Regions from separate parts of the Homo sapiens genome. Here region 1 is linked to region 2. The links come from fine-mapping of genetic effects on gene expression. Tissue or cell type: whole blood. Region 2 holds a variant in brackets; the other region holds the start of a gene. All regions are shown on one strand. Distances are between the middles of the regions.

The links. PIP is the estimated chance that this variant, and not a neighbour inherited with it, causes the effect.
Region 1: CCNJL starts here. The variant in region 2 is fine-mapped to the expression of CCNJL in whole blood (TOPMed, PIP above 0.99).

Annotation. Positions count from the first base shown.
Region 1 is chr5:160,310,041-160,314,681 of GRCh38, forward strand. CCNJL (cyclin J like) reads right to left here and starts at 2,524. Exons shown (of 6, transcript NM_001308173.3): 1 at 2,324-2,524; 2 at 1,818-1,932. The coding sequence starts at 1,883. RefSeq lists silencers at 2,453-2,572, 2,683-2,742.
Region 2 is chr5:160,275,443-160,280,083 of GRCh38, forward strand. All of the region lies in intron 3 of CCNJL (cyclin J like), which reads right to left. Among named protein-coding and RNA genes, the nearest start is that of CCNJL, 35 kb to the right of the region's middle. RefSeq lists an enhancer at 3,313-3,840. The variant C/T (reference allele first, on the strand shown) is at 2,849.

The sequences.
Region 1 (4,641 bases), 35 kb after region 2:
ACTAAACAAATGGCATTTATTGCTCTTAGAAATCCTTCCCTCTAGAAAGGGGCAAATCAGGTAGAAGTCGTTCCTCCTAAGCTATGAGCAGAAATGACAACCACTTGAGTCTATGATAAACAAGGAAGCCCAATTTCCACGGCAGTCCTCACTAGCTCCATTCAGCCACCTCCTCCAGAAAAGGGCCAGGACCATACCCCTACCACTTTCCTTGCTTTTCAACTGAACCAACAAGACCTGGATTTCTTCTTGTCCAGATGCCTAGAATGTGCCACACGTTGGCCACTCTGTTCTGGGAAGAAGACCAAGGGAACAGATGAAAGCCACAGCCTTGCCAAGCAACGCAGGACAAAGACAGGTCAGCAGGTACAGAAAGAAAAGAAAAAGGCATTAATTGGACAGGAAGACAGCTACTCAATGAGGTAAAAACACTGAGTAGCTGGTGACCCTTTAAGCAGAACTCCTCCAGACACTCGGAGCAAATGCACTGACTGTGAAACCTGTGTGGGGGCTCAGGTACTGCACTAGGAAGACCTTTTCCTCCCTGTATTGGGCGCAGTAGTGTCCCCCCAAATGTCATGTTAATCTGGAACTTCAGAATGTGACCTTACTTGGAAATGGAGTCTTTTCAGATGTAATTAAATTATGATGACATCACATTGGATTAGGGTGGGTTCTACTCCAATGATCGGGTATCCTTGTAAGAAGAGAAAACAGACAGACAGATAGCACCATGTGACAGTGGAGGCAGAGACTGGAATGATGTACCTACAAGCCGAGGAATGCCAAGGATGACCAAGCACCAGCAAATTTAAGAAGGAAGAAGGAAAGATCCTTCTCTAGAGCCTTTTGAGAGTCATGGCCCTGCTAACACCTTGATCTGGGATCTTCAGCTTCCAGAGCTGAAATAAATTTCTGTTGCTTTAAGCCCTCCAGTTTGTGTGGTCCTTTGTAATGGCAGCCCTAGGAAACCAATCCATTCACTACTTCACACCTGTTCCCCAAGCCACCCCTTGCCAATCTCAGCCCAGGGACTGGAGGCAAGACACACAGGCCATGCCTCCAGCCCACCTGGACTCTTCCACCTTCCCAATGCCCCTCAGCCCTTCTCTCCTTGAGGGGAGGGGTGTGCAGGGATCACATTTCAGCTGCTCCCACCCACCTTCTGCCACAGGAGGCAAACCGGCAGGGGAGTTTTTGTTTTCTTCCCTCAGCCTCCCTGTTTTGTAGCCTCTTTCAATTATACAGGTGTTCCTTAAATTTCATTCGGTCCCATTCTAGATATACACATAGATACACGTATTTGGCCATAACCATGTATTCCCTGTACTACCACTTATCTTTATATAGAGTTACTACTTTTACTTAAATTTGTTTTAAAATAAACTGCGACATCATTATTACAATAAATGGAAAATCGCAAACGCAGAGCTTGCTAGATACATACACATTCTTAAATTACACATTAGAATGAATACACAATATTTTTTAAAGACCCCTTCACGTACGGTTTAAAATAACCTAGGGTGGCAATACTATAGGAAACACTGCCTTAGAGGTACAGTGGCTGTCTCTGACTAGTTGGCCCAGAGTTCTGAGCTCCTTATCAGAAAAACCAACTTCAATCTCTCCCATCTCCAGTCTCTAACCCCCGCCCCCCAATTCCGCTCAGACACTCCGGGAGAAGGTAAAGGGTAAGAGGAAAAAAAGGCACCCGGGAGTTCTGAGTTCCCACGCAGGCGACCTGAGAACACGAAGTCGAGACCGAAGGAGACTGTACCCAGTCTTGAGAGTGACAAGGGCAGGGAGGGACTGACCTTCTCGCGCAGGGTGCAGTGGACGTCCGAGGCGACGCGCCCTTCCCACCACGGCTCATCCATCATCGCGTACGCAGCGCCGCTATCCGAGGCTACCCGGCTCTCAGGGCGCACCCTGCGTGGACACGGGCAACTTCAGCGGCCAGAGCGTACCCCGGGCTCCGACCCCCGGTGTCCCTATCCTCTCTCGCCCCTGGCCCCGGGCCCCGGCGGGCGCCCCCTCCTGCGCCGCTCAGAGGAGCTGGAGGTCGCCTCTGGTCCGCGGAAGGCTGCGGTGCCCCCTCCCCTCTGCTCGCCGGACACGGGGCGATATGGAGCTGTGCAACAACTTGCAGAATTTTTATCTTCCCTTTTGCAAAAGTTGCAGAGAAAGTTGTCAACTCCGCTAGCTCGCTCGAGGCTGGGGCTCTGGCGGCGGCCACAGGCTCGCCGTCCCCAACTCCTCCCCCGCCGCCCAGCCTTTGTCCTGCTCCCACATCCTGCCCTCGAGCCGGGGCGAAACTCACGCATCCTCTCTGGGCGTGGGGGGCTGCGAGCGCCGGGCCCCTCCCAGTGCCGAGCCAGCCGTGCCCTCTGGTGCCTGCCGGCGGTTGGACCCTCGTCCGAGGCGCTCCGCACTCCCGACGGCCGCCTCCGCAGCCCGACTAGCCCCCGCCGTCGCCGCGCCCCTGCGTGCGCTCGGGTCCCGCCGCGGCTCGCAGGCTCCCGGCCGCCGGGGGCCTCCCTCCCTCGCTGGGGGAATTGGGGGCCGGGCCTCGCGCATGCGCTGCCGGCGCCCCCGCGCCCCGCGGGGCGGGGGGCTGGGAATTGGAGCCTTTCTTTGCCAGCTCTGGCTCCGCTTCCTGCCCGCCCTCCTCCCTCGCTTCGGCGGAAAGCTTCTCTCTCACCTTCGCTGAGGCTAGTGGTAGCCTTCTGGGCACCCCTCCGGCTTGCGCAGGGAGCAAAGGGACCGCGGCGCCACCTGCGCGCACCACGCGTGAAACGTGCGGACAGGACGCCCCCAGAAAGTTCTGCCTTCCGCGCGCACTGCTCTAGCCATCCTTACGTCGGTTCCACCTGTTTTTCTTTCTCTCTCTCTTTTTTTTTTTTTCCTGTTTTTGTTTTTTGTTTGTTCTCCTCTTCTTTGAAACCCGCCCTGCCATGGGGAGGTAGATTTCCAAACGGACAATTCCAGTGAAAGCTGCAGAAAAACCACCCTTGTTCACCCACGAGTCCCTAATTCTAAAGGAGCCTAAGTCACTGGTATTATTGTGCTCCTGCAGAATATGAACTATGCCTCACATTGGAGGAAAACCAGTCTTTTTTTGCCGGGTCCGGTGGATGGAAAACATTGTCTTTTTAATTCAATTGCTTGCTTTTGGAAAGTCATCCTTTTGAGTCAGCCCATCTGATGGCATAGCATTGGGCTATCCTTCTTGGCTGATTGATTTTTGTGATAGTTTTGGAGATTCACAAATTTGGAATCAAATCCACTTACCAACTGGGTGATTTTTGTCAAGTTCCTCAAACTCAGAGCCTCGTGTGTAAAATGGAAATAAAAGTTAAACCAACCTGCTGAAAATTAAAGGAGATAATGCGTGTAAAGGGATAATCACTACACCAGGTATTAAGTGAACACTCAGTAAACAACTGTGACTGAAGAGCCTTTAGTTTCTGACTGCTTTCCTGCACATAAAGACACACCTGGGAAAAAAAAATTAAATCAGCTTTGATAAGCTTCAATTGGACCTTGAAGAGCAGTTTTAATGTAAAACAAACGAACCATTTTAAAAGTGTAAGATACCTAAAAATAAACTGAATAAATGTGCAGGCTCTTAATGAAGACATTACAAAGGTTGAAACATAATAAAGAAGGCTTGAAGGAATAGAGGCACAAACACCAACTTAACCCAAATTACTCTATTTAATAAAATTTTAATGGTTGTGGGTAGATTGGAGGAGGGGGCACTTAACATGTTTTCTAACCTTCAAATGGGAGAATATCTGCGAGAAAAGCTAAGAAATTTATATTTTAAAAATGGGGGGATGGCGGGGCGCGGTGGCTCACGCCTGTAATCCCAACACTTTGGGAGGCCAAGGGCAGGCAGATCACCTGAGGTCAGGAGTTTGAGACCAAACTGGCTAACATGGTGAAACCCTGTTTCTACTAAAAATACAAAAAATTAGCCGAGTGTGGTGGTGCACGCCTGTAATCCCAGCTACTTGGTAGGCTGAGGCAGGAGAGTCACTTGCATCTGGGAGGCGGAGGTTGCAGTGAGCCGAGATCGTGCCACTGCACTCCAGCTTGGGCAACAAGAGTGAAACTCCGTCTCAACAAACAAACGAACAAAAAAACTGGGGGGACAGACCTGTATTATCAAATCTTAAAGCATATTGCAACACTATAGTTAAAACAGTGTAGTGTTCACACAAGAATGGATGGATTAAGCATCAGTGGAATAACTGAAAGTCTAGGAAAATTTAATATATTTAAAAATTCACTGTATGATAAATGTGGCATTTCACTTTGTTGGGACAAGTATAAACGGCTAAATTATTTAATAAATTAGGTTGGGGGAAAAAAGTAAAACTAAGGACTTGTTTAAATATCACCAAAATAAATATAAGAACTCAGAGAACTACAAACAAGCAAATCACAAGAGGATAAGAAGAAAACATACACGAATTATACGGAGGGGAAGGCCTAGATACTAAGACATGGGAAGAAACCAAAGGCAAGGTGAGTAGACAAATTTGAATAAATATGCAGGATCTAGATACATCAATTATCATTGCCAAAAAGGCAAACGACAAATTTGAGAAAATATTTTTAACAAATGTGACA
Region 2 (4,641 bases):
AACTAATTTTTCACACTAGGTACTTCTGTACCTTTCAGGTTTTTTGTGTTTGTTTGTTTTGAGATAGGGTCTGGCTCTGTGGCCCAGGCTGGAGTGCAGTGTCAAGATCTCAGCTCACTTCAACCTCCACCTCCTGGGCTCAAGAGTTCCTCCCACCTCAGCCTCCCAAGTAGCGGGGACTACAAGCACGTGCCACCACACCTGGCTAAATGCTTTCAGGTTTTTAAAAGTAAAAACGTATCTCACACTTCTTGTGCAAAATAATAAGGTCTTACAGTTAAGGCCTAGCTACCCTAGCAAAAGGTCACCTCTTGCCCTCCTGGCTTTCTCCCCAACCCTCCCTCCCTCCTCAGGCTGGTCCATGCCCTGGGGCCAAAGACTCAATACTGCAGTCATCTCCAGGCAGCAACCACCAAGCAAAAGCAAACCTCCAAGGTGTCTCAAAAAGTCCAACATAAAATTACCACATGACCCATAATCCAACCCATAGGCATATACCCAAAAGAATTAGAAACCAGTGTTCAAATATAACTGGTACCCAAATATTCACTGCAGCGCTGTTCACAACAGCCAAAAGGTGAAAACAACCTAAACATCCATCAACAGATGACTGGATAAACACACTGTGGGATATACAATGGAATATTATTCAGTCATAAAAAGAAATGAAGGCTGGGCACTGTGGCTCACGCCTGTAACCCCAGCACTTTGTGGGACCGAGGCGGGTGAATCACCCGAGGTCAGGAGTTCGAGACTAACCTGGCCAACATGGTGAAACCTTGCCTCTACTAAGGATACAAAATTAGCCAGGCATAGTGGGACATACCTGTAGTCTCAGCTACTTGGGGCGGTGTGGGTGGGGGGTGGGGCGCTGAAGCAGGAGAATTGCTTGAACCTGGGAGGTGGAGGTTGCAATGAGCTGAGATCATGCCACTGCACTTCAGCCTGGGCGATAAGAGCGAAACTCCGTCTCAAAAAAAAAAAAGAAAAAGAAAAAAAAAAGAAATGAAGTACTGATACATGTTGCAACATGGATGATCCTTCAAAATTCTGTATGAAGAGAACAATGCTAGACACAAATGGTCACATATTGTATAATCCCCTTTATATAAAATAGCCAGAATAGACGAATCCATACAGACAGAAAGCAGATTAGTGGCTGCCAGAGCTGGGGGATAGGAAGAAACGGCAAGTGACTGCTTAATGGGTACGAAGTTTCCTTTTAAGGTGATAAAAATGTTCTGGAAGTAGAGAGAGCGTGAAGGTGCTAAACACCACTCAACCGTACACTTGAAAATGGTTAAAATCCTGAATTTTATGTTGTGGCATGAATTTTATCTCTCTTTTTTTTTCTTTTTTGAGACAGAGTCTTGTTCTGTCACCCAGGCTGGAGTGCAGTGGCATGATCTCAGCTCACTGTAACCTCTGCTTCCCAGGCTCAAGCAATTCTCCAGCCTCAGCCTCCCATGTAGCTGAGACTACAGGCATGAGCCACCAACACCCAGCTAATTTTTGTGGGTTTTTCTTTTTAGTAGAGACAGGGTTTCTCCATGTTGGCCAGGCTGGTCTTGAACTGCTGGCCTCAAGGGATCTGCCTGCCTCAGCCTCCCAAAGTGCTGGGATTACAGGTGTGAGCCACCGTGCCTGGTTGTATTTTTCTTTACAAAAACAAACAAACAAACAACAACAACAAAAAACCCACAAACACAACCCCACACTACAAGTTGGGCAAGTTTTGTGGCCTCTCTGAACCTATAAAAAGGGCGGGTGACAGCACGACCGCATAGGCTGGTCGTGAGGATCCGTGCGATGTGTGTAAAGTGCCTGGCATGGGGTCCAGCATGTAGAAAGAACAGTAAGGAAGGAAGCCACAGCCGCTGTGATGCCGATGATTCAGGGGCACTGCCAAAGCCAACTCACCTGGAAGTTGTGGGATTTCCACGTTGTCAAATTATCCTTTTAATTAAACAACAGGAAGAACAAAAAGACATTGCAGGAGGGGTGCTGTATAAGATGAAAGATTAAAGAAGAGGGAGGCTCAACTTCATTTACTGTTTAGTGATCTCTATACTATATTTATGGTAGAGTTCTATCCTGTGTTAAGGTAGGAGACGCAAACAATGAACTCTGAGGGAGAGAGGGTGTCTTTGCCACATGTCCACTGTGGAATGACGAAATGCTCTCGCTTCTTCTGCCTCCTCCTGTGGCCCGCAGACATGGGTCCCTGGCTGAGCCCTGTTGGACGGGGCAGAAGGGGCTGTAGGTAGGTGAGAAAATCCCATCTCTGCTTCCTGTCTATCTGTTTTTTTTTTTTTTTTTTGAGATGGAGTTTTGCTCTTGTTGCCCAGCCTGGAGTGCAATGGCGCCATCTTGGCTCACTGCAACCTCCCTGTCCTGGGTTCAAGCAATTCTCCTGCCTCAGCCTCCTGAATAGCTGGGATTACAGGCGCCCATCACGCCTGGCTAATTGCTTTTTTTTTCTGAGATGGGGTTTCGTTCTTGTTGCCCAGGCTGGAATGCAATGGCATGATCTCAGCTCACTGCAACCTCTGCCTCCCGGGTTCAAGCGATTCTGCTGCCTCAGCTTCCTGAGTAGCTGGGATTACAGGCATGCACCACCATGCCCAGCTAATTTTGTATTTTTAGTAGAGATGGGGTTTCTCCATGTTAGTCAGGCTGGTCTCAAACTTCTGACCTCAGGTTATCCGACTGGCCTGGCTAATATTTTTGTATTTTTAGGAGAGACAAGGTTTCATCATGTTGGCTGGGCTGATCTCAAACTCCTGACCTCAGGTGATCCACCTGCCTCTGCCTCCCAAGGTGTTGGGATTATAGGTGTGAGCCACCG[C/T]GCCCAGCCTTCCTGTCTATCTGGAAGCAGATTTAAAAACCTGAGATTGACAGGTGGGGGGGCAAGAACCCCAGCTCTTCTTATCTCAGAATAATTTGGTACCAAATTAGCAGATCTCCAAACTTCCCGAGGCAAGGGGATCCCCCTTGTGGCCCACAATGGCCTGGGGAGAGGGGAGGAGGGAAGAATAGGATTTCAGGCTGTCATGGAAACTTTTCTTCCCTCTGGTCTCTGCAGCATATGGCAGGTGTCCTGAAAAATCTGTTCCTGCTGCCCGAGGCTGTGCTGCCCTCAGACACGTGGGTGGGGGCGTCTGCCTCTCTGTCTGAAACGTCCCCTCTCTCCGCCAAGGTGGCAGCAGCACAAAGGAGTCTCCAGTGTGTGCCTCACATCCCAGCTCCCCAGACAGACACTCGGGGAGAGCTTCCATGGCCCCATGGAAATATAAGTCCCCTGCCCCCAGCGGGCCGCGATGCAGCCCACAGATCACAGACAGCAGCAGGCCAAAGGCCGTGGCGCAAATTTCTCCTGTGCTGCTTGAAATACGATGCCCAGTGTGCCCTCCACAGCCGGAGATGTTTCACAAGCCCCGCAGACGAAAGGGGGCTGCACGTTGATTTGGGGTGCTGAGACAGGCTGGACACCCAGCAAGACTGGCTCGCATGTGTAACAAGGGAATCCAGTTGGCCAAAGGTAGAGAAAAATCACCAAATGTGGGGCTATGAGCCTAAAGCAGCCAATGGGATCACGAACAACAGCAGGTAAAAGGTGCCAGCGTGGAAAACGAGACAGAATTCTGAAAACTCTAAATCTGTGCTTCCGGAACTGGGTGATCGTGCCCATGGGGTTTATGGAAGCCTGCCAAAAGCAGACAAAGCTACAGGAGAAAGTGGGTGCCATAGTCCTGCAGCACCAAGCAGGATGAAGGATGGAGGGGCAGGGAGGGGAAATGAATAATGAAATAGGACACAAACATATCTCAGAGGAGAATGTAAAATCTGACTGTCAAGGATAAAATACCAGATGTCAAAGAAATGTCCTAATTGTACCTGGCCACTTTGAGCCTGAGGCCTCTGGGGCATTCCATTCCTCTGCATTAGGGCAACTATAGAAGTATAGAGGCCTGGCTCTCAAGGAACCATTAGCTCCATTAGTTTCATTGATTACACAGATTATTTTTGAGGTCTTACTATGTGCCAAGCTCCTTTCCATCCCTGAAACTTGCTATCCATGGGGGGTGGTGGTTGTTCATTCAAAGCACATGACGCTGAGGGTCTGCATACTTGGGAGACCTCACCTGCTGAGGGCAGTGGGGGAAGGTTTTCACAGGGATCTAGAGCCTCGGTGATGTTTACCCAGAACCAGGTGGGCAGCGGGAGGGAGGGAGAAGCAATCCAGGTAGAGGGAACAGCATGTGCAAAGCTCTATGACAAGAGGGGGCTTGGCCAGTGTGGCTGGAACCCAGGAAGTGATGAGGAGAAAGGCACAGGGCAAAGAGGCAGGAACTCAAGGGTTGGTCTTTAACCTAAGACTGCCAGTAAACCATGGGATGATGTTAAGTGGAAGGGTGGCATGGCAGAACTGTGTTTTAAGGAGATCATCCGAGTAGCAGCGAATTAACACAGTAATCTCTACCAAGGCAGACAGACAGATGGTCAAAGCTACGCTGTGTTTTTAGTGAGGCCTGTTTGGAAGGTGCAAACCCCAAGAGGGCTGTGCCCAGGCCTGGTGACCACACAATGGGTCCTGCTTAGGTCCAAATCAAGCAGTCACATTTCAAAACACCTTATGAA